3 separate regions of the Homo sapiens genome follow, and all the other regions are linked to region 2. Evidence: fine-mapped expression QTL. A gene starts in region 2. Each other region holds a variant in brackets. All regions are shown on one strand. Distances are between the middles of the regions. Region 1 overlaps KLHL25 (kelch like family member 25). Region 2 holds the start of KLHL25 (kelch like family member 25). Region 3 holds the start of MIR548AP (microRNA 548ap).

What was found.
Region 1: its variant is fine-mapped to the expression of KLHL25 in whole blood (TOPMed, PIP above 0.99).
Region 3: its variant is fine-mapped to the expression of KLHL25 in unexposed skin (GTEx, PIP above 0.99).

What each region holds. Positions count from the first base shown.
Region 1 is chr15:85,762,323-85,770,500 of GRCh38, reverse strand. KLHL25 (kelch like family member 25) reads left to right here. Exons shown (of 3, transcript NM_022480.4): 2 at 681-2,484. The coding sequence starts at 691. The coding sequence ends at 2,460. MIR1276 (microRNA 1276) reads left to right here; the gene lies at 1-5. Among named protein-coding and RNA genes, the nearest start is that of MIR1276, 4.2 kb to the left of the region's middle. RefSeq lists enhancers at 1-391, 392-1,166, 1,167-1,940, 1,941-2,715, 5,647-6,379 and 2 more. The variant G/T (reference allele first, on the strand shown) is at 3,712.
Region 2 is chr15:85,790,962-85,799,139 of GRCh38, reverse strand. It overlaps KLHL25 (kelch like family member 25), which reads left to right and starts at 4,215. Exons shown (of 3, transcript NM_022480.4): 1 at 4,215-4,374. RefSeq lists silencers at 4,025-4,094, 4,245-4,544.
Region 3 is chr15:85,825,346-85,833,523 of GRCh38, reverse strand. It overlaps MIR548AP (microRNA 548ap), which reads right to left and starts at 7,889; the gene lies at 7,794-7,889. The variant G/A (reference allele first, on the strand shown) is at 4,693.

The DNA of each region.
Region 1 (8,178 bases), 29 kb after region 2:
CGGCTCTTGTTCCAAGGCAAGGGGGATGTCTAGCCAGTACCGCTTGGAGCCCGGCCCAGGGCAGAGCCTGCTGGGAGCAGGGAAGTGGGTACGTGAGGCTCTGCTTGGGCGTCCACAGCAAACCCTGCAGGGATTAGTCACCTTGAACAGAGATCAGGCTCCAGAGCCGGACAGCCCATGTGAGAATCCTGGCTGTGGCAGTTTGGGTAGTTTCTTGGCCTCTCTGAGCTGTGGCTTCCCTAGCTCTAAAATGGGACTTACAAGAGAAGCTTCTGTAGAGGACTGTCATGAGAGTGGAATGTGGTCAAAGGCACCAGTTACTTAGCACTGCCCGGACACCAGCCTCAGTCAGGAACACCGTTTGCATGTTCTCTTAACCATGGGAGGCAGCCTCAACTGGAGCTTGCCTAGGGGGTGGCTCATCTGCAGGCCAGAGATGTTTGTCCCAGAGCTGGCTCATACCCTGAGAACAAAACCAGTTTCTGCAGGGCAGGGTGAGACCCAGCCACTCTTGCCTGTGTTGTCCTTGGCAACGTGGTTGCGGGAGAGGGGCTTGGTTTAGCAGAGGTGAGCAGAGAGTGGGTGGGAGGGGACAAGGGGGCTTGTGCTGAAGAGTGAGCCCTGAGAGGGCAGATGGGCAGGAGGGGCTCCTCTAACCTGTGGGCTTGTTCCCCCACAAGCTGACGCACCATGTCGGTCAGTGTCCATGAGACCCGCAAGTCGCGGAGCAGCACGGGGTCCATGAACGTCACCCTCTTCCACAAGGCCTCCCACCCGGACTGTGTGCTGGCCCACCTCAACACGCTTCGCAAGCACTGCATGTTCACCGACGTCACACTCTGGGCGGGCGACCGTGCCTTCCCCTGTCACCGTGCCGTGCTGGCCGCCTCTAGCCGCTATTTTGAGGCCATGTTCAGCCATGGCCTTCGGGAGAGCCGGGATGACACTGTCAACTTCCAGGACAACCTGCACCCGGAGGTGCTGGAGCTGCTGCTGGACTTTGCCTACTCCTCACGCATCGCCATCAACGAGGAGAACGCTGAGTCACTGCTGGAGGCAGGCGACATGCTGCAGTTCCACGATGTGCGGGATGCTGCCGCCGAGTTCCTGGAGAAGAACCTTTTCCCCTCCAACTGCCTGGGCATGATGCTGCTCTCGGACGCCCACCAGTGCCGCCGGCTGTATGAGTTCTCCTGGCGCATGTGCCTGGTGCACTTTGAGACGGTGAGGCAGAGCGAGGACTTCAACAGCCTGTCCAAGGACACACTGCTGGACCTCATCTCGAGTGATGAGCTGGAGACCGAGGACGAGCGGGTGGTCTTCGAGGCCATCCTCCAGTGGGTGAAGCACGACCTGGAGCCACGGAAGGTCCACTTGCCCGAGCTCCTCCGCAGCGTGCGTCTGGCCTTGCTGCCGTCCGACTGCCTGCAGGAGGCCGTCTCCAGCGAGGCCCTCCTCATGGCAGACGAGCGCACCAAGCTTATCATGGATGAGGCCCTGCGCTGCAAGACCAGGATCCTGCAGAATGATGGCGTGGTCACCAGCCCCTGTGCCCGGCCACGCAAGGCGGGCCACACGCTACTCATCCTGGGGGGCCAGACCTTCATGTGTGACAAGATCTACCAGGTGGACCACAAGGCCAAGGAGATCATCCCCAAGGCCGACCTGCCCAGCCCCCGGAAGGAGTTCAGCGCCTCAGCGATCGGCTGCAAGGTCTATGTGACGGGGGGCAGGGGCTCCGAGAACGGGGTCTCCAAGGATGTCTGGGTGTACGACACCGTACATGAGGAATGGTCCAAGGCGGCGCCCATGCTGATTGCCCGCTTTGGCCATGGCTCAGCTGAGCTGGAGAACTGCCTCTATGTGGTGGGGGGACACACATCCCTGGCAGGGGTCTTCCCGGCCTCGCCTTCTGTCTCCCTGAAACAAGTGGAGAAATACGACCCTGGGGCCAACAAGTGGATGATGGTGGCCCCCTTGCGGGATGGCGTCAGCAATGCCGCAGTGGTGAGTGCCAAGCTGAAGCTCTTTGTTTTCGGAGGAACCAGCATCCACCGGGACATGGTGTCCAAGGTCCAGTGCTATGACCCCTCGGAGAACAGGTGGACGATCAAGGCCGAGTGCCCCCAGCCTTGGCGGTACACAGCCGCTGCCGTCCTGGGCAGCCAGATCTTCATCATGGGAGGTGACACGGAATTCACAGCCGCCTCGGCCTACCGCTTTGACTGTGAGACCAACCAGTGGACGCGGATTGGGGACATGACTGCCAAGCGCATGTCCTGCCATGCCCTGGCTTCCGGCAACAAGCTCTATGTGGTCGGGGGCTACTTTGGGACCCAGAGGTGTAAGACTCTGGACTGCTATGACCCCACTTCAGATACATGGAACTGCATCACCACAGTGCCCTACTCACTTATCCCCACGGCCTTTGTCAGCACCTGGAAGCACCTGCCCGCGTGAGGAGCACCTGCTGAGCCCAGCCAGGTGAGTCCCTGGCAGCCCACGGCCACTCTGGGTCCGGAAAGGTCATGGGGGAATGCAGTCCCACCTCTTCCCACTGGGTGAAGGTCACCGTGTCTTCCAGGGAAGTCTGGGTGGGCAGCAGGTGGCTGGTGTGCTCTGGAGTCAAATCCTGGCTCTGCCTTCTATTTGCAGTTAACCTGGAGCAAATTATTGAACCAGTCTGCAAAATGGGGACAGTAACCATGGTTAGACCAACATGGTGGTTCCCAAACATGGTTATACTTCAGAATCACCCAGGGACCTTTTGACAGTGCTGTGTGGAGCATAGGTCAACCTGCAGAGTCTGAGGGTGCAGTCTCCACACAAGCCTGCTCTTACTTTTGACACCAGGTGCAACAAAGGGGGCCTCCCAAACCACCCTCGGTCAATTTTGCCAGAAAGACTTATAGAAGTCGCTGAAGGCTGTTATGCTCACAGTTACAGTTTATTATAGGGGAAAGATACAGATTAAGATAAGCCAAGGGAAGAGACATGTACTAAGGCAGAGTCCAGGAGAATGGCCCCCTCCCCATGGAGTCAGGACAGTGTTACTCTCCTGGCACTGATGAGTGATGATATGTATGAAGATTGCCAACCAGGCCCGGGCATGGTGGCTCATGCCTATAATCCCAGCACTTTAGGAGGGCTGAGGTGGGCAGATGGCTTGAGCCCAATTCAAGACCAGCCTGGGCAATGTGAAAGTCAGTCCTGGCCGGGCACAGTGGCTCATGCCTGTAACCCCAGCACTTTGAGAGGCCGAGGTGGGCAGATCATGAGGTCAGGAGATCGAGACCATCCTGGCTAACAAGTGAAACCCCATCCCTACTAAAAATACAAAAAATGAGCCAGGCATGGTGGTGCACACCTGTAATCCCAGCTACTTGGGAGGCTGAGGTAGGAGGATCACTTGAACCTGGGAGACAGAGGCTGCAGTGAGCCAAGATCATGCCGCTGTACTCCAGCCTGGGCAACAGTGAGACTCCGTCTCAAAAAAAAAAAAAAAATGATCGCCAACCAGGCATGACATCCATGTCTAAATGGTGGAGTCCTCCAAAAAACTGTTAACTGTAAACACCAAAGCCTGCATGGTGGGAACAGACAGCCTTGGTTTGAGTCCTGTTTCTCCTGGGGGCAGCTGTGTGCTCACCAGCATGCAAGGGATGGGGAGAAGTCCTTCCTCGAAGCCGGCAGGCGTCTAGCTTAAGCGAG[G/T]TCATCCTTGAGGGCCTTGGAGCAGGGCTTCCTGCAGAGCGAGTGTCTGTGGGTTGCTGCCACACTGTCATTGTGTGGAATCGCTATGAAAACAGGTGACACGGAAGGCACTCTGTGGGAGGTGATGGTGGGACAGAGACACTGGGAGCAGTTTGAGCCAGGCCCTGCAGACCCTGCAGTGAAGGGAAGGAACGGGCGGGAGGAGTGTCTCATCTGGTGCTGGTTTAATCTCCTGAGAAGCTGAGCTGGGGGCGGGGTCTTCCCGCAGCAAATAGGGGCAGGATCGGCATGAGGTCCTGCCACGAGAGAGGGTATCCCGGCCAGCCTGGCAGGGTACTGGGGTAGATGCCAGAGAAGGGCTTTGTGCCCAACACACCCTCTGTGTTTAGGGCCTGGGAAAGGCCAGGGTGCGTGCCACTAGCCCTTGGCCATTCTCCCGGCTCATGCTGTCCTGGGCCCCTCACCCCTGCAATAGGGGCATAAGATCCCTGGGTGCACTCTGCCTCCAGCACAGGACGAGACTGTGGAAGATGAGCTGTCCTGCCGGAGGGAGCCCAGCCGCTTCCCACGATCCTGCAGCGCTGGGTGGTGGCAGTGATCCCCACGTGTGGGCTCAGCTTCAGGTCATAGGAACCCTTTCAGGAGCTGGCCCGAGCTAAACATTAATTTCCTCAGTGAGCCAGCGGCTGCTGATACAAATGCTGAAAGCTCTACCCAGTGAAGGCAGTCATTCTTAGCTGGGATTGCTTCTCAATGGAAGCTGATGGCTCAGCCTCTAACTCAGATCCAGCCAAGCCTTCGAGTCCCTTAAAGGGACATGGTGGCAGGCAAGGAGGGCCCAAGCATAAGCATCAAGTTGGTGAACACAGGGTGTTTGGGCTCACAGAGGCCAGCCTGAATAGGAACACCAGTTTTCTTTTTTCTTTTATTTTTCTTTTTTCTTTTTCTTTTTTTTTTTTTTGAGACAGTCTCGCTCTGTCACCCAGGCTAGAGTGCAGGGTACGATCTCTGCTCACTGCAACCTCCACCTCCCAGGTTCAAGGAATTCTCGTTCCTCAGCCTCCTGAGTAGCTGGGATTACAGACGTGTGCCACCGCATCTGGCTTGCTTTTTTCTTTTACAGCTTTTCTGTTTTCTTCTTCTTCTTCTTCTTCTTTTTTTTTTTTTTGAGACAGTCTCGTTCTCCCCCAGGCTGGAGTGTAATGGTGCGATCTCTGCTCACTGCAACCTCTGCCTCCTGGGTTCAAGCGATTCTCCTTCCTCAGCCTCCTGAGTAGCTGGGATTACAGGCATCTGCCACCATGCCCAGCTAATTTTTGTATTTGTAGTAGAGATGGGGTTTCACCGTGTTGGCCAGGCTGGTCTCAAACTCCAGACCTCAGGTGATCCACCCGCCTCGGCCTTCCAAAGTGCTGGGATTACAGGTGTGAGCCTTCGTGCCCGGTCTTCTTTTTTTTTAATCTGCTGTCTTTAGAGAAAAATCAGACCTGCCAAATTTCTTGATTCCCTGAGGAGTGAGATTCCAAGAGGATACTGGCATCTCCTCATTAATTCCCTGTTGCTATCCTCTAGGTCATTTAGAAACCTGGGGAATGTCACCTGTGGGAAATGGAGGCCCCTCCCACCCCAGGCCAGCCGGGCTGGGCAGTGTGAGGGGGCCCATGCTGCTGGCCTCAGGCAGCTGAGACCATCTCTGGTCTGAGCCTCCAGACCAGAGGCTGCCCCCTGCCTACCCTCCAGGTCAGAGGCTCCCTCCCACCTGGCCCTGCCCTGTCAACTGGACCTGGTGAACCATGTACTCTCCCAGGAATTGCTCTGATCCCAGGGACCCTGGAAGGAGAGCATGCATGGTGTCTTGGTTGTGACTTTTTGGCTGCTTCACCCTGGACTGGCTACTTGATTCCCCTGAGGCTCAGCTTCCCCATCTGGACAACGGGAGTGGAAATTGTATTACTCATAGCACTAGAATAGAGATCAAGTGATTGCCAGTTTCAGAAGCAGCTTAAAAGGGGTAGCGATGGAGGACAGGGAGATGCTGATGCTGATGGTTTTGGGGTGCTGTGGGCTGCAAGGGCCTCTAGATGTCTCTGCTTAGCCCCTCCCTCTGAAAGGCCTGTCCACCCATGACTGCTGTTCCTCAGCAGGCACTTGCCCTGTGCCCACTGGAGTCCTCCTCAGTCTGTAATGGGATTGCTGTCATCAGCTCCATTTAGGGATGAGGAAGCGGACACACAAGACTGAGCCAGTCCCAGATCTGATGGGGAAGCTACTTCCAGACCCTGTCATCCCAGAGCCATGTCCCCAAGGCGTTCTGGGCTGTGTGCTTCCTTGGCTGCTGCGCTGAGTCCGGGTTGCTCTTAAGCTTCTGCCACTGCCTTGCGTTCCAGCTGCTTCCTTCTCATGGGCCTGGTGGCCATCCAGAGACCCTCCGCGCAGCCCCTCCTCAGCCTGAGGCCACCCCAATCCCGTGGCTTCTGTCCCCTCACTATGACCCTGGGTTGTTCCCATGCTCTGCAAAGCTCCTCCTGTCCAGCTTCTGCCTGGACAGCTCAGTGTCCGAGTTCTCTTCAAAGGCAGGGAGTGAGCTGGGCTCTCCATAGAAGGGCCTGCAGCCCAGAAGCCGCTGCCCGGGCATGCCTGGCCTTCCCTGGGTCACCAGGAAATGGAGCCACAGTGGCTGCAAGCAGAGCTCTCGCTGCTCAGGCGGCCACTGCGGAGCTGTCAGGGCTGAGCCAGAGGAGAGCCCCCAACTCAGGCAGCCGCAGACCGGGGCCAGGAAGGGTGGAAACAAAGCACTCCTGCCACCTCCCCCGCGGTGGGTGCCCCTGGTGACCATGGCACTTCCCACTGAGCTTGGCTGCCTGCAGCCCCAACCAGCGCATCGTCGTCTGCCACCTAGAATGTCGTCTGGCAGTGCCTGGGCCCGAGATGGCTTCTGTGACCACCCCGCTCCCTACGTTTCCCTCCCTGACGCTACTCTCCCAGGCAGCAGTGGGGATCAGGCCAAGGATGCTGGTGAGAAGTCCAGCTCTCGCTAGTCCCCACGAGCATGGCTGAGTCTCCTGCCTCCAGCTGGGCCCAACTGCCCCTGTCCCTGGAGGCCCCTTTCCATCCATCCTGTAAGACTCTGACGTTAGCTTCAGAAGCCACCAGGAGGTCCCCTGCACACTGTGGCCTCTGCACCCCAGATCATGGCCCCTGTTTGTCCACAAGCATTTTTTTTCCCCTGTTCTGGCCACCTGTTGGAGCTCTTCATAGGTGTGAGCGTCTGCATCGAGTTCCCTGTCATTCTCCAGAGCTGTTTGTCGTAGGTCCTGCTGTTGGAGGGCGCCCACTAGGACTCTGAGAGGTGAGACAGTTGGCATCACATGAATGGTGAGTCAGGGCTGGAGCAGGACTTGAGCCCTGAGTGTGCCGCCTGCCTGCAGGCGCCTCTGGGGAGCTGGCCACGGGCATCCTCACGTCTGCGCCCCTGGCACAGAGCACAGGCTTGGCCAGCAGCCGTCCAGAAGCGGCGGGGAATTGCTGAGCTGGAACCTGAGCGACCTCCAGGGCAGCCCCTTGCTCCAGTGTTGCGGTTGGATCCACAGCCTAGGGGATAGCAGCCAGCGGCTGCAGGAGGCCCCCGCTTACCCACTAAGGGTGATCTTGCTGTGAACATTCTCTCCTTCTCTCTCTTTCTCTCCCACTGGGCACCCCGTACTCCAGGCCCTTTAAGGCGCAGACTCCCAACCCTTCTTTCCCACCCGCCTCCAGCATGGGGGGGCTGCCGAATGCAAGGCAGGCATCCGGCTGCCGACAGCTTGTCTTCTCTTCAGGGTGTTGCTGGGGCCTAGCCACTGGGGTGCAGGGCAGGGTTCCAGTCCTGGCTCTGGGAAAGGCCGAGCTCATTAATCCACTGTGGGCTCCGTCACTGCTGCAGGAGGGACAGTACAGTACATTCTCTCCTGTCTTAAAGAAGTTGCTACAGATGGGAAATCCCAGAGCACAGGCCTGAGGATTTCTGCCAGCCTTGAGGGTTGGGCCTGGCTAAGCAAGTGCCCAGGACGGAGTCCGTCCGTCCAGGCATCAGCAGTCATTCGTTCCTGTGCCAGGCTGGGGGATAGAGCAGCATCCCACCCTTGATGGGGCAGGCTGAGCCTAGTGGGGCAGGCCCTACACCAACAACCCACAGGATGCACGTTGGCCAAGACCTGCTGCACACAGGAAGTGCAGGGCGGCCGCTGACCCTTGTCCACTCTGCAAGCTGGAGGATTAGCCCATTTCACAGTTGAGGCCAGGCCCCAGGGAGCACCTGCCAAAAATTAAAGGGACCCAGCCTGAGAGGGAACAAAGGGACCCAGCCTGAGAGGGAACACAGGAGCCTGGCCCCGAGGCTCCCCAACCCCTGTGCCTCTAGCTGTCATCTGTATTCCTTTCAGCAACTCAGGGTGCCTTGGGGGACACCCCCAGGTAGGTAGCGTGGCT
Region 2 (8,178 bases):
GGGAGGTGGGAGTTGAGGTGTGAGAGTGGCCCAGGCCAGACCAGGGCAGGCTTGTGGGCCGATGGTAGGACTCTGGCCTTCACTCTGAGTGAGGTGGGAGCTACTGGTGGATTTCGAGGGGTAGACAGACATAACGAAATTATCTTATAAAAAGATCCCTCTGGCTGCTGTGTTGAGAACAGATTCTATGGGAGCAGTGTGGAAGAGGGAGATGGCCTGGAGGCTGCCATAATGTCACAGAGGAGAGAAAATGACAGTGTCTCTAGACCAGCCTGGGGGTGGCAGTGGAAGTAGTAAGTACTCAGACTCAACAGGGATTTCCTGATGGATTGGACATGGGGTAGGAGAGAATGATGCCAAGTTTTATCTTACAAAAGGAAAGACTGCGTTGTCCTTTCCTGAGATGGGGAAGCCCACAGGGAGAGCAGCCATAGGAGCTCAGCGGAGACAGTTTGAGGGTAAGGTGCCCTAGACATGCACATGGAGATACCCAGTAAGCAGCTGCACCCATGGGCTTGGAGCTTATGGAGAAGGCGGGGTGGGAGCACAGAGTTGGCAGTTGCCAGTGCTTATATGAACGTAAGGCATGGGCTTGGATGAAATCACTTAGAAGGTGTAGGTAGGGAAGGGAATAGGTCTTCTTATCTCCCTATGCTCCCTACGCTCGCTTCCCGGGCGCTCCAATATTTGTAGGTCTGAGAAGTGAGGGGGAATCAGCAGAGGAGACTAAAAAGAACACCTGAGAAGGTAGAAAGGAAACCAAGAGGCCAGGCGCGGTGGCTCACGCCTGCAATCCCAGCACTTTGGGAGGCCAAGGTGGGCAGATCACCTGAAGTCGGGAGTTTGAGACCAGCCTGACCAACATGGAGAAACCCCGTCTCTACTAAAAATACAGAATTAGCCAGGCGTGATGGTGCATGCCTGGTGATCGCAGCTACTCGGGAGGCTGAGGCAGGAGAATCGCTTGAACTCGGGAGGCAGAGGTTGTGGTGAGCTGAGATTGCGCCATTGCACTCCAGCCCGGGCAACAAGAGTGAAACCCCATCTTTAAAAAAAAAAAAGAACCAAGAATTTGATCATCTATTAACGAACATATATTGAATTCTATACATCATCCCAGAATTTCTGAGACTTCAGATTCTGGGCCACCAGGAATACTAGCTAGATGGCAATGCTGGGAGGAAGGTATTGGTAAGGATTGTTGGTGGACAACAGGCATCTATTCCCTCTTCCTTGTTAACAGAACCCTGACTTTGAGGAGGTGATGTACTAACATAAAAGTCTACATTTCCCAGCTGCTCTTGCAGGTAGGAAAACTAAATTCTGTCCATAAACAAAAGTGTTGTGTGGGACTTCTGCAGTCTGCATAAATAGAGCTAACCAGGCTGGAAGACACACATCTCATGCTCTTCCGCCATTATTCCTTCCTACTGTCTGGGATATAGGTGTCAGAGTTGGAGCCCTAGCAGCCATCTTGGACTATGGGGCAACCTTGCAAATGGGAACCAAGCATTACAGATGAAGGAATAAAAATACAGTAGCCCGTGTTTCTGACAACTGTGGAGTTGCCAACAAAGGATAGCTTAACTTTAGCTTTATTTTGCATAAGCAAGAAACTTCTATCTTGTTTCAGTCACAGTTAATTTTGGGTTTTCTGTCATATGCAGTAAAAACTAATTCTAACGGATATGAGATTTATTCACAGTATTTCAAAACTGTGTAGACAACTTTGATGCAGCCCTAAGAGTTCTGAGATGAATTCATGGTCCCTGCCCTCCCAGAGCTCCCTGCACAGCAGGTGGACTAGCTAAGCAGGCCATTACAACACTGGCTGGTAAGGGCTGCGTTGACGGTAATGCTCCAGGGTCCGCAATAGATGGCAAGGCAAACTTCCGCTCTTCCTCTCATCTTCTTTCAAATCGTACCTAAATTCGATTAACTCCACACGTGTTCTTAGTCTGATTTTGTCCCATTGCTTACACTGTATTTGATTTTAATATATTCTAGTACCTAATTTAAGCCTTGGAGTTGAAGAGAGAAAAAATTATAATGTGGACCAGATTTTACTGGGCGGTTGGCACTTATAATTTTACAGCGAACCTGCATAAAATAATAAGCAACAGTTATAAACTTGCCAAGAATCAATTTTGCATGTGGAGCTTCATTCAACCAACAATTCTATAAACACTCTAGTGCTAGAAAATCGGCAGGATAAAACTACAAATGTGATCTCTGTCATTTCCTTAATGAAGTAATTACTTTGATGCTAATGTGTTGGAGCTGGTTCCTTCCGGTGGGTTGGTGGTCTCGCTGACTTCAGGAATGAAGCTGCGGACCTTCACGGTGAGTGTTACAGCTCTTAGAGGTGGCGTGAACCCAAAGAGTGAGCAGCAGAAAAATTTACCGTGGAGAGCGAAAGAACAAAGCCCCCACAGCGCCAAAGGGGACCCAAGTGGGTTGCTGCTCCTGGCTGGGGGGCGGCCAGCTTTTATTAGCTTATTTGTCCAGGCCCATGTGCTGCTGATTGGTCCATTTTACAGAGTGCTGATTGGTCCGTTTTACAAACCTCTAGCTAGCCACAGAGTGCTGATTGGTGCATTTCTACAGAGCACTAATTGGTACATTTTACAAACCTCTAGCTAGATACAGAGCGCTGATTGGTGCATTTTACAATCCTCTTGTAAGACAGAAAAGTTCTCCAAGTCCCCACTGGACCCAGAAAGTCCAGCTGGCTTCACCTCTCACTACCTTTTCTCTTCAGAAGGCACCTTAACAGTGCACTTGGCAAGCTTCTTACCTCTGGCCAATATTGTTCATAAATATCAGAACCCTGGTGCCTTAGATGTCTGCAGATCTGGGCCAAATGGAAGCACAAATCTGTACTGAGCACTTACTACATGCCAGGCCTATTCCATATGTTATCTTAATCTTTCCCATACCCCTGCAAGAAAGGTTTTAGAATCCTCTTCACCAGTAAGAACCAGACACCAGAGAGTCTGAGCCATCTGCTTCAGTCCTACCCAGCTCTTGAGGGGCAGGGCGGGGCTTCAAACCCAGAACATCAAGCTGTTTCCCAAAAATGCCTTCCCTGGTGGTATCTTCTCATCATCTCCCAGTCTTTTAACCCTGGCATATCTGTCCTGTCTAAGCAGCTTTCTACCCAGGGGCTCTATTTCCCAGGTTCCACTAGTCACAATCCTATCCCCTCTCCCAAATCTTTGTACACTTTCTTAGACCTTCCTTGCACCTCCCACCTCCACCTCCGTCAGGGTGACCTCTGCTTCCTGGGAATTTCCCCGCCCCAGGCTTGGCTCTTTCGTTCTTATCACTTTCTATGCTTTACCTTTTGTATCCTTAAGCAACCTACTTGAATTATCGATTTTCATTGGGAGGGAGAAAAGAGAGGACATTTATTGCGCACTCATTTGTCTGGGAATTTGTCTCCTTTAATCCCCCAAATAATCCGATGAGGAGTTTTTATCTGCCGCTTTACGGATGAGATTGGACACACACAGTAAGCTGAAGTAGTAGTCAGGAGGGAAAAGGACGAAGAATCACAAACCGTTCTCCCCCTCCAAGATGAGTGCATGGTGTGGGCGTCCAGGAAACGTTCCTGGAAGAAATTATTGGATGGATGGATGAATGAATGAATGAACGAACATTTAAAGGCTGGCTTACGAAAGGAGTTTAGTGAGAAATGACACAGAGAGGAGAGCTGAAATACTCCAAAAAATACAGATTTCAAGTACAGGTGGGGTTTGGAGGCTGCAGAAAGTCCCAAACATTCAAACAAGCCCAGAGTGAAAGACAGGGTTTCATTAACACTCGGGCAACTACTAGTGTGGCTCTGAAGAGTCTAAAGAGATCTACAACACTTGTGACCCGAACACAAAAGAGGCATATGCAATCTACAGTGCTCCCTCTGGAAAGCTCTAGAACACCGTCGCGTTTTGTTCCCAAACTTGGGCGGCGGGGTTGGGCAGGCGCCTGTCTCTTTAAGAATCTGGTCGAAGTCCTTTTCCTCGCCCCGCCCCGCCCCCGGTCCCCCCCCCTCCCCGCCCCCGGCCCCCCACCCCCCGGTGCCGGCGCGGCCTGGGGCCCACCCCCTTCTTTTCTGCGGCTGCACTGAAGGGTTCGGCTGCCCATCCGTCACAGAGGCGATGCCTCTGATTGGCTGCTGCTCTTCGGGCCGGGAGGCGGGGCGGGAAGGCCGGAGAAACTAGTTTGTTGGCGGCGCCTAGGCTGTATCGCAGCGAGAGCGTTTTTGCCTGTGGAGAGCCGGCCGACGGGAGCCGCGGCGGAGCCTGTTGAGCTCGCGCGGGCTGCCGGGAGTGGTCTCTGAGGCGGCGGCGGCGGCGGGGATCGTCTCCGGCAGTGAGTATCCAGGCCGGGCGGGGACGCCGTGCTCTGGCCGCAGCACCCGCGCCCCCGCTCCCTGCGCTGGGGACTCACCACCCCGGGCCGGGCCGGGACCAAGCGCTCGGAGCCCCCGCGGGACTACGTGTCCCGGGAGGGGGCCCCGCGGCTGGGGCCGGGGCCCTGGGACAATGGTGGGGAGCGGCGGCCGGCCGGCACCCCGCGGCTCCGCGAGGGAATTCGCCGAGAGCTCTGCGCGAGGGAATGAATTGTTTGGCAAATGGATGTTGCGCGCGGGAGCCGCTACTCTTTCCCCAGGGAGTGGTTGATTCATTGAGTCCGCAGACTCTTTTTTTTAAAAAATTACTATTGATCCTGGAAAGAGAGACTGCTTGTCTTTGAGGACGCGAGCGGCGATGCCCCGCGCCTTGGACGCCCAGGCCGGATGGCTGCCTGCCTGGCGCAGAGCGAGGGCCCGGGGTTCACAAGGGGAGGGTTTGCGCGGGCCTGGCCGCGGAGCCCCGAGCCGTTCACGTTCCGCCTGCCAGGGTCCCTCGTTTCGGTTTGCAGAACTGTCCAGCGGCAGAGAAAGGTCGCACTCAAAGGCACACCCACCTGTCCACCTGGGTGGCGGCCAGACTGGCAGGTCCAGAGCAAGCCCTCTAGCCTGACTCTAATTACCACACTTGCCCTGGCTCCGAGACACACCGCGCGATGTTACGCCCCCACTCCCCCTGTCTCTTTCGTAGTTGCTTTAGAAGCTTTTCTCTTGGGGGATTGTGCCCGGGAGATACCAGATACTTTTTTTGTGTTGCTGCTCTAAGCCCCCAAAGTGCATTCCCATTGTCTTTGAACAAAGAAACATCTCTCTAGAGGCCTGACCCAACGAACTGTGGGTGAGGGGGCGGACCCAGGCCCCTGCAGATTTAATCTGGACGCTCTTGGGTCCTGCTGGATCCCGGTGAATTTGACCTTGGGGAAGGCGGGCTGGACTTTGACTCTCCTCGGTAGTCAGGGCAGAGAATGCCAGGTGTCTGGACCATTTGGTTCCACTCTATCGGCCCAATAGAGAGAGGAAGGGAAGGAAGTTAGCAGTAGCACCAGGAGAGGAGGCAGGATTCCACGGTCTGTATCCTGGACCAGATTCCAGTGACCGTTATGGGGCCAAGCCCTCTGGGACCCTGGGTCCCAGTCTCCCCATTCATAGGAGGAACTGATGCTCAGTGTGCTGATCTGAGCTGTGAGGATTCCTGGCATGTTGGTGAAGGCTTGCGTGGGGGTCTGGGGAAGAGTAGGACACAAAGTCTACCCCACCTCAGGGTCCATTTGGTGTCCCAAGACCGGAGGCTCTTGGGTCCACAAGCTGTGCCTGTGAAGGTTGACGTAGTCAGTCTTTTTCCGGCCTGGCAGCTATTTCAGTTTTGAGTCATTTGTCAGGCAGTGACTCCAGGGTGGTTGATAAAAGGGAGGTAGAAATGGAAGACACCTTCATCCTGGGGTCTTGGGCTGCAGTTGGATTTATGTATGTGGTGCGGAGAGAAGAGCTATAGGCAAATTGCATGCTCCACATCGGAAGCAGGTTCTGCAGCCCGATGCCCCTTAATAGCGTTTTAAATCTGCGGGCACCCCGTGTGGGCAGAAGAGAGCAGGAAGAAAAGAGAACAATTACCCAGTGAAAGCAAGCTTGGTTCGTCCCGTCTATCACTTGGGCGGGGGCGGGGGGAAGGGTAGGATGAGTGAGAGTGTTATTTAGTGGGTGGTTTGTGACTGATTGATTGATTGATTCATTGTTTGAACAGACTTGATTGGGCACCTGCTGTGTGCCAGGCCCTGAGTTAGGTGCTGGAGACTCTTCCTTTAGTGAGCACCTAGATGAGGGAGTGCTGGCACATGGATTAGGGGCCCTGACACATCGTAGTGATAGAGGCAGCAAGAGGAGAGAAGGAGACACAGGTGGGCAAGGCTTCCTGGGGAGAGGATGCCTTGACTAAGATGAGAAAGGCATGTCATCGCCCAGATTCGAGGTGTAGGGCAGCCACCTTTGTCCTGTCGCTCACCCACACTTCTCCCAGAGGCCCAATTCATTGCCAGCCTCAAGATAGGCACAGGTTGAGGCCATGGAGAATGCAAGTGGGAGGTGGTAGAAGGTTTGCTCTCGTCCGTAGTGTCTGGCCGCACAGTCAGCAGTCCAGCGCATTTGTAGGAAGCTGGATGGCTTCTGGATGCAGCCTCTCTTCTCTGGGGGTCCTGGGAGAACCTACCCCCTGGTCCCAAAGACCAGCCCATTGTCTGAGCCCCTAGTCCCTCTGTACCACCAGGCAGTGTAGGCATAGCCTGGCCAGTGTGGGCAGAGCTGGCACAAGAAAACAGAGTGGCCAGACACAAATGAATTGGTTGATTGAGATGCTGGTTTTCATCTAATGTGGTAAATTTCATAATTTAATTGCCTCAGCCAGCCAAGGCTGTTGAAGCATTTTCCTCACCAGGAAACACTTAGTTGGAACAAGCTGGGGGTAGAGGAGGGAGGTGCAGGGGAGGAGGGAGGAGGGAGAACTTAAGCATCCACAGCTTTCAGTCACAGCATCCCAACAGGACTTATCAATCAGCAGCTATCCCCAGCTGATGGAAGTCAGCCCAGCCCCTACAGTAGGTTCCAACCCCTTTCCTTGACCACCTCATTGCCATACCAACCTAAAGCTGTCAAAAGCTGACACCTGTCATCTTCAAGGCATAATCATCCCATACTGCCTCCAGGTCCTTCTGGGGCTGTTAGAAACTGGGGAAGGGGTGCTGTGGGATTAGGTGGGGAAGCGAAGGGGTTTGGGGATAGGAAGGGCTCCCTGTTAAGTCCTTTTAACCCAGGAGCAGTGGAAAGAGCATGGGCTTTGGCACCAGACTGGGGTTCAAATGCTGTGGGTCTGTGATCAAGTTCCTTAACCTCATTGAGCTTTGTTAGCTTTTTTCAGGGGTATGGTGAAGGTTAACCACCATACTATGCAGAATCCCCTAGAATGGGGTCTGGCACCAAGTGGGTGTCAGTCATGCCGGGCTCCCCTTTCCCTTTTTTGTTTTTGTTCCCTGGGTGCAGAATTGAGGTTGGGTGCTTGTTGCTCTGCAGCTGACTTGCAGCCCTCCCCTGAGTCCCCAGTCACCTCACCCCCGCCCCCTACCTCTCTTGCCACTCTTTCTTACTGCTAAACCTTTCCTGCTTTCCTTCCAAGCCCTGTCCCAGCACCCTGTTGGATGATAAACGATAGATGTGTGTGGCTTATTAACCTTTTTTTCTTTTGAGAAGGAGTCTCGCTCTGTCGCCCAGGCTGGAGTGCAATGGCGCCATCTTGGTTCACTGCAACTTCTGCCTCCTGGATTCAAGTGATTCTCCCGCCTCAGCCTCCTGAGTAGCTGGGATTACAGGCACACACCACCATGCCTGGCTAATTTTTGTATTTTTGTAGAGACGGGGTTTCTCCATGTTGTCCAGGCTGGTCTTGAACTCCTGATCTCAGGTGATCCACCCGCCTCAGCCTCCTAAAGTGCTGGGATTACAGGCATGAGCCACTGTGCCTGGCATTTTTCTTTTTTTTTTTTTGAGACTGAGTCTTACCTTGTAGCCCAGGCTGGAGTGCAGTGGTGTGATCTCAGCTCACTGCAATCTCCACCTCTCAAGTCAACCAGTTGTCTGCCTCAGCTTCCCCAGTAGCTGGGATTACAGGCACCCGCCACCATGCTCGGCTTTTTGTATTTTTAGTAGAGACAGGGTTTCACCATGTTGGCCAGGCTGGTCTTGAACTCCTGACCTCGTGATCCACCTGCCTTGGCATC
Region 3 (8,178 bases), 34 kb before region 2:
AAACTTGGGCATTCTTTTTACATTTTATAGAAAAGAAAAAGGATGACGGGCTTGGTGGCTTATGCCTATAATCCCAGTACATTGGGAAGCCGAGGCGGGCGGATCACTTGAGGTCAGGAGTTCGAGACCAGCCTGGCCAACATGGCAAAACCCCGTCTCTACTAAAAATATAAAAATTAGCCTGATATGGTAGTGCGTGCCTGTAATCTCAGCTACTCAGGAGGCTGAGGCAGGAGAATCACTTGAACATGGGAGGTGGAGGTTGCAGTGAACCAAAATCACATCCCTGGAAATCAAAAAAACAAAAAAAGAAAAGGAAAAGGAGGCACCATTCAATTCAGCGTGAATTTATCAAGCATCTCCTCCATGCCAGGAACTCTCTGGACACTAAGGATGCTGTAAGTGACATTCCCTGACCTCATGGAGCCCAAGGAGATTAAATGACCCCTATAACCTAAGGCAGTTTTTCAAATGTCTTCAAGCCTCCTGATGTGTACAAAAGGTAAAAACCCTGGTACCTCTGGTGGAAGAAGCCAGAGCGATCACTGTTTCTCACCCCAGGACTCCGGGAAGTTCTCAAATCACCATGCGGGGTCTCCTGCAAGATCTTGAAAAGTAATAACAGCTAGTGTGTATTAAACACTTCTTAGGGGCCAGGCACTCTTCTAAAAACATTAGCACCTGAACTCTCAGAACAAACCCATCATGTAGGAACTATGATCCCCATTTTACAGATGGAAAGGAGATCACAGAGAAGGAAGTCACTTGCCACAAGGGCTGACTCCAGGGCCCATGACTTGTGTTCTCACCTGGCCTAGCTGCTGCACAGAGCTCCTCACAAGCCGTGAAGAGCAGCGCCAGGAAGCCCCACCGCATCACCTCCATTCTGATGATGATGGTGGTGATGGTGGTGGCAGTGGTGATGAGGTAACTCTTAGTTCCTTTATTTCCTGCAGAGAATGGCTGGTTCCTCTAAATGGCTTGGTGATTGTTTTGTTTGTTGGGTGTTTTTGAGAAAGGGTCTGACTCTGTCACCCAGGCTGTAGTGCAGTGATGAAATCGCAACTCACTGCAGCCTTGATCTCCCAGGCTCCAGCAATCCTCCCACCTAAGCCTCCCAAGCAGCTAGGACAACAGGTGTGTGCCACCACACCCAGCTAATTTTTCTATTTTTTGTAGAGACACAGTTTCACTATGTTACCCAGGCTGGTGTCGAAATCCTGAGCTCACATAATCCTCCCGCCTCCCAAAGTGCTGGGATTACAGGCGTGAGACACCACGCCCAGCCTAATTTTTCTTAATGTACATTTTCATTTTACCAGTGCTATTGTAAGTGCTTTTTGCTGTAACACATTTCTAATACATTTTAAGCAAATGCGGCATTAATTTTGAAGGAATGATCCTTTCTTGTGAAGACCCTTATTCAGCCATTCCCAGGAGGGAGGAGGGACAAAGAGAGACTGAGAGACAGAGAGTGCAGGCGTTCGCAGACAGGAGACAGAATAAGAGAACATTTGCTAAAGAAATGACCCAGGCACTCAGTAAATGTTAGAAGACACGCGAGGGGCTTTTCCAGCGGTCAGTCCTGGCTGTGAATCTCAGTCCCACCCTGTGCCAGATGACATGTCGGACCAACTACATAAATCCTCCGAGCCTTGGTTACCTTGTCTGCAAAGCAAAAGATCTCATTGGGGTTTTCTCCCACATTAAAGGAAACAACCCCACTTTGCACAAAACCTGGAACAGAATAGGAATGCAGTGTGTGCCTTATTCAACCCCTTCTGGACCCTGAGTACAAGACTGAGAATGTCAGCAGAGGGCGCTGGCTGGTCTGGGTCCCTCAATCTGGGAAGCGTGCAGTGTGGATTCAGCGTGGATCCTCTGTCTTGTGGGTGGAGGGCTGAGGACTTTAAACCATGGTCAGATTCCCCCGCCTGTGGGCACTGTGCTGGGGACGGAAAACAGAGCTCTCTGAAGGTGCAATTACACGTCATTTGCATATCTTATAGAGAACAGATGCTCCTTTCCATCGGGAAACATTCCCATATGGTCTGGCCTTGTCGCAATTTCCAACAAGGGCTGGTTTTAAGTTTTGCAATTAAAGGTGTCCCTTGGCCACAGCCAGAAAACAAACTGAGTTTTCATTGAGCCCTGGAGGTGCCTTTGTTTTGCCTCTGACAAGAAGGAAGCCAGCCCTCTGGGCCCCAGGGCCCTGCCAGCTCTCCCTGAGGTCCCCAATTGAGGGAAGGGTTGGGGCCTTCCCTTTAAGGGTGGCTGGCAGTCCCAAAAAAAAGGCTGCGCTAGGGGGATTGGGAAGGGAATGGGAGGGAGATGAGATTAGAGGACAGGGCTAGGGCTGTCAGAATGAACTTCAGGAGACTTTTCCTCCAGCATCTCACATCCTCACTTTTCTCTACCCTAACCCTCTAGACCCCCATCTTCCATCTTTCCTCCTCTCTACCCTCAGGACACATACAGCCCCCAGGTCATAAACCCTCTTCAGATGAAACACACAGGTGGCATCATCGCTCTGCCAGCTGGCCAGGTCCTCCCTTGTGCGGCATCCTCAGGCCCCCCAGCAGCCCTGCATGATAAGGGGCTCTAGGCAGCCTCCACCCTCGGGTCCAGCCTTCTCCACTTGCCTGGCCCAGCTCTTGCCCCTCCAAGGCCTTCAGCTTGCTGTTCCTTTCCTATTCCATCCTTGCCTCACTACTACTTGAATCTGATCCATGCTTTTATCTCCCTGATCAAGTCTGATTTCCTCTCGGCCAGGACTCCCCCTGGCCCTCCCAGTAATGCATCCACAAGTAACAGCAGCAACCCTTGGCCCCATTCCCCTCAGCCCCTGGTGCTTTCCTGCCTCCTAGAAACTGTTCCCACAAACTGCCATCCTAGCCAGCTCTACCTCCCTGGAGAGAGCTGATCCTTGGGCATCCCATACATATGATTTTCCACCGGTGGCCATAGGAGGATGCACGTTCACCTCCTGTCCTGCTGCTCTGTCCTCTCTGGGCAACTTCTATGTCCCCAAGCTATCTCTTGTTTCAGAGAGTCCCCTCCCAAGTAGCATTCCAGGTCTCCCCTGAACTACTGTCCTCCATCATGTGTTTATCTCCAGTGTCCCAATCCATCAGGACCTCGCATGGGCTCTGAATCCATTAACTGGCTGTGTGACCTGGAAACCAACTTATCCTCTCTGAACCGCAGGTTCCTTAAATGTAACTTGGGAGTGCTAATGTCCAATCCTTTTTTTTTTTTTTTTGAGATAGAGTCTCACTGTCACCCAGGCTGGAGTGCAATGGCGCAATCTCGGCTCACTGCAACCTCCACCTCCTGGGTTTAAGTGATTCTACTGTGTCAGCCTCCTGAGTAGCTGGGATTACAGATGCACCACCGCGCCCAGCTAATTTTTATATTTTTAGTAGAGTCAGGGTTTCACCATGTTGGTCAGGCTGGTCTCAAACTCCTGACCTCAAGTGATCCGCCTGCCTCAGCCTCCCAAAGTGCTGGGATTACAGGCATCAGCCACCACTCCCAACCATGCCCACATCATTTGCTGCTGTGATGATGTCATGAGATGACAAACAGAAACATCTCCTTCCTCCTTCCTCAGTGGTGGTAACTCTCCAGGGTGGGGTGAGAGGACTAGGACAGACTCCCCACCGTCCCCACAAGTGACTGCCTCTGCCTCAGGCCAGATGACCCTGACTCAACCCTGCAAGTTGCAGGAAAGCTGAGCCTAGTCTCTCTCTCCAAGAACCTGGTCCCAAAGAGAAATAGTTCCTGCTGCCAGGGTTCCATGGCTTTCCACAGGTGACCTGTAAGGTCAACTATCTTGAGCCGATAGTATGAGCCGCCATACTATATGGTGGCTCATTTAGAGCCTGTAGCAGCTGGATGGAGACTGCCCACAAAGAACAGGTCAATTTGGTCCATCTTTGCCTTTAGTAGTTGCTTAACAGATGATTTTTGTGGACTTAAACCAACCACCCTGATCGGAACCACACCTTTGTTCCCTTTTCCTAGATGAAAAAAAATGGGATTCTTTGCTATGGCACCTACATGGAGGCCACCTGAGGGGCTCTGGCCAGGAATCCAGGTGTTGAGTCCTTCAGAGTTGTTACCTGGGAGCCACAACCATGAAGCATGTCTGTCCTTTTACAGGTCTCTTAAAACCACCTTCCAAACAGCCACTTCCAAAGTCATACAGCCATTAGGAGAGCTGACTGCACTGATTTTTACCCTTTGTGCTACTGATGTCAGAGGCACAGTAAGCAGATTAGAACAGGGGCGAGATGCTACCTTCTGGCACTTCCTGCCAAAATTTGCCTACAGCACATGGATGGCTGTTTAGAGGTAAGCTAAAAAATCTGGTGGAAAGTGCCTGGAGTCATTTGGGATTTTGAAAACATAAGTCGGCCATGTGTCACTGACACTGCTGGTTGCCTACTTAACATGCGTTTCTCACCCACCCTCCTTTCCTCTTTCGATTCAGAACAGCATCTGCCCTCCTGTGCTCAGCTTTGTGTTTCACAAGGGGTTGATCACAGCCCCAGCCCAAGGGCTGAATCCTCATAGGTCCAAGCCAATCATGGGTTCCCAAACCCTTTGTTGGTAATTGGTTTAGATAAGGGTATGTGACATTGTGACATAGATTTCTTTTTTCTTTTTTTTTTTTTTTTTTTTTGAGAC[G/A]GAGTCTTGCTCTGTCGCCCAGGCTGGAGTGCAGTGGCACAATCTTGGCTCACTGCAACCTCTGCCTCCCAGGTTCAAGCAATTCTCCTGCCTCAGCCTCCCGAGTAGCTGAGATTACAGGTGCCCATCACCACACCCGCCTAATTTTTGTATTTTTAGTAGAGATGGGGTTTCACCATATCGATCAGGCTAGTCTTGAACTCCTGACCTCGTGATCCGCCCGCCTCGGCCTCCCAAAGTGCTGGCATTACAGGCATGAGCCACTGCACCCGGCCTAATTTTCTGTCATTATAAGCCACCCAGTTTGTGGTAATTTGTTACAGCAGCCCCAGGAAACAAAAATACCCTCTGTCTCCAGCCTCTACCCTCTTTGTTGTGTTGGCTTCTCTTTTTCTTCTGGCTATGGACCAACCCCTGTACTCCCTAAACCACAAAGCTGCCAACAGCTTGCATATTTGACACCTGTCAATCAAGCTTCCAGAAAGAAAAACAGTACCCTCTGTTTTCCAAATCCAGTTCTCCATGAAATAACTTTGATTGGCCTAGCTTGACTTGCAAGCTAAATTTGGTCCAATCAACTGTGCCCAGTGGCAGACTGGCATTGAACCAAGATGGCAACTCCTAAAGTAGCCATATGGATGGGAACAGAAGATACAGGGAAATTTCTAGAGTAACAAGTGTCCGCTCCAGTTATCTTTAAATAGTTACTCCATAAACACTGGCTTCCCTGGACCATGTTAATCTTTTATATTTTCAGGTATATCTATCGATAAACAGTGAGGCAAAGATAAAGAAAAAATATGGATCTTAAAAAGCCAGATATCTCAGCTGATCAGTGAAAGTCTTTGAAAAGGATGTAATGGACACCAGTACTCTTAGAAGTAATAATGGCATAATTTATAAAGTAAATAATTTGATTGTCCCTACTCCAGCTGTCTGCGTGGAAAAGTGAATTGAGGGAATCCAGCCCCGTGCAAAAGGGCTAACAGGAGCAGCCAAATAGGGCCAGGTGCGGCAGCTTACGCCTGTAATCCCAGCACTTTGGGAGGCTGAGATGGGCAAATTACTTGAGGTCAGGAGTTCTAGACCAGCCTAGCCAACATGGTGAAAACCCATCTCTACTAAAAATACAAAAATTAGCTGGGCATGGTGGTGGGTGCCTGTAATCCCAGCTACTCGGGAGGCTGAGGCAGGAGAATCTCTCAAACCCAGGAGGCAGAGGGTGCAGTGAGCCGAGATTGCACCACTGCACTCCAGCCTGGGTATCAAAATGAGACTCTGTCTCAAAAAAAAAAAAAAAAAAAAAAAACACTCTGATAAAGAGCTGAATAGATACAAATAAATAACCCAAATATACTCTTGTTTGTCTTAGAGACAGTAAGCTAAATCTGATCAGAAATGACTGAAGCAAGTCCAGAGATGCCGACAGATTAGTACTTCTACACAGGCAGTTCTTGTGTGCTGAGGGATGAGATACTTGCAGCAACTTTGTGGCCATTCTCTTAGACCACTGAGTAATAGGCTGTGCTGATAACGACTCATAAAACCTTCAGACACAAATTTTGTAATTGCACCATTATTACAAATTGTATTGTCTGACATTCCAGGTTTCTTGTAAATAACTGATGTAAAGCCTCAATCATTAAAGGGGAGGTTTGAGATAGGATCAAAACTATCTTAGTTCTTTTTGAAAACGTCTCTTGCAGTCAAATTATTCCCCAGGAACGTTTCTGTACTATCAGCATGTTTTAAAAAAAAATCTAGATCACTTCTTTTTTTGAGAAAGGGTCTTGCTCTGTCATCCAGGCTGGAATGCAGTAGCGCAAACATGACTCACTGCAGCTTTGACCTCCCTGGGCTCAGGTGATCCCCCCACTTCAGCCTCTTGAGTAGCTGGGACTACAAGTACACACCACCTCGCCCGGCTAATTTTTCTATTTTTTGTAGAGATGGAGTTTTGCCTTGTCCTGAGCTCAAGGAATCAACCACCTCATCCTCCCAAAGTGCTGGGATTACAGGTGTGAGCCACTGCACCTGGCCATAAGTTCCCTCAGGGGTTTTTCTCAAGTTGCCTACAATAATCATAAATACAGCCTTTTCAGTGGCAGACTTATTCTATGGTCCATGATGGTTTACTGAAAACATAGGTTCCTTCCTGTCAATAACTTTCCATTATACTGTTATAATATAGCCAAGATAATATGGTAAAAATATGTTGACATGATAAATTTTTCCAATAAAATGCATCCTTTGCATGCAGACAATTCATACTTATTAGTAAATAAATTTCACTCTTTGGGCAGTTTCTGTCTAGGTCACCCCTTCAATACCAAGTTTAAGGCACAAGCTGATCTAGCATCACACAGGCAATAAACAAAAAACTATATTGTATCTTCTCTTCAACAGAGAATGAGGTAAGGCTCCCAGGATCCGCATGTCCTGTAAAGCTGACAAGGAGCATGTAGTGTGAGGGCACTTAGTGGGCAGTAGTCATTGAGCTCTTCAAGGATTCCCCAAGAGAACACAGGAGTTGGGTTGGAAGGGAAGACTCCCACAATTCCTAAAACAGTGCTGTAGTTCAAGGATAGTTTTATTCTTAGAAGAGTCCCTAGAAAGTCAAATGATAGCTTGTCGGAAGGATTTAAGGAACTAATAATCCACATGAAGTGCTTAGCACAGCACCCGATGTGTGATAAGCATTCAGTATATGTTAGCTAGTCTTGTGATTTGAAGTGGCGGTAGGATTTCTTAACATCCATGATAACTGTTGGGGCTTCCATCTTGGTATCTGTGCAGCTGCATTCTGTGAGTGACAGTGTTCTTGGGTGGAAGCAGCTGGTACCTAATGGCCATCTGGCACTCTGTGGCCAAGCACAACTCCAGCCCTATAGGGTGGAGCGATTACATCAATAAATAGTGGCTGCATTCACAAAATCCATGGGCCCTGTCTGGGAAGCCAAAAACCTGCTTGACAGCCTGTGCTCTTGTTACAGTAGGTAGCTAGCCAGCCATGAGCAGGGCAGGAGAGGAACCCTCCCAACCACCAGGAATGTCAGGCAACCATCAGGTGATGGTAAAGCATTTGTTACACTGTCTCCCTAAATTAATCTTTAGGTCAGTAAAAAGTAATTGTGGTTTTTGTTATTGGTTTTAATGACAAAGACCGCAATTACTTTTGCACCAACCTAGGAATTGGTCACAGCTGGTGCCAGGGAAAGGCAGTCTCCTAGTAGAGAGAAACACCTGAAACTAGCAATCAGCAGCTTCCCAGTGAGATCTCTAGAGTTGGGTGAGTGGGCTCAAGTATGTACACTAAGGGGCAAAATGACGGAGTTTAACCAGTATATGACCTTCCTCCAGGAACACTGGTAAGGGGAGAATGCCTCAAGTGAGCATGCACACAACTCCAGTTAAATACACTGCACATGTGGCCCCTCCCAAGTGCTGGCAGGCCACTGTGCACCCAGACAGCCCATCCCAAGGAAG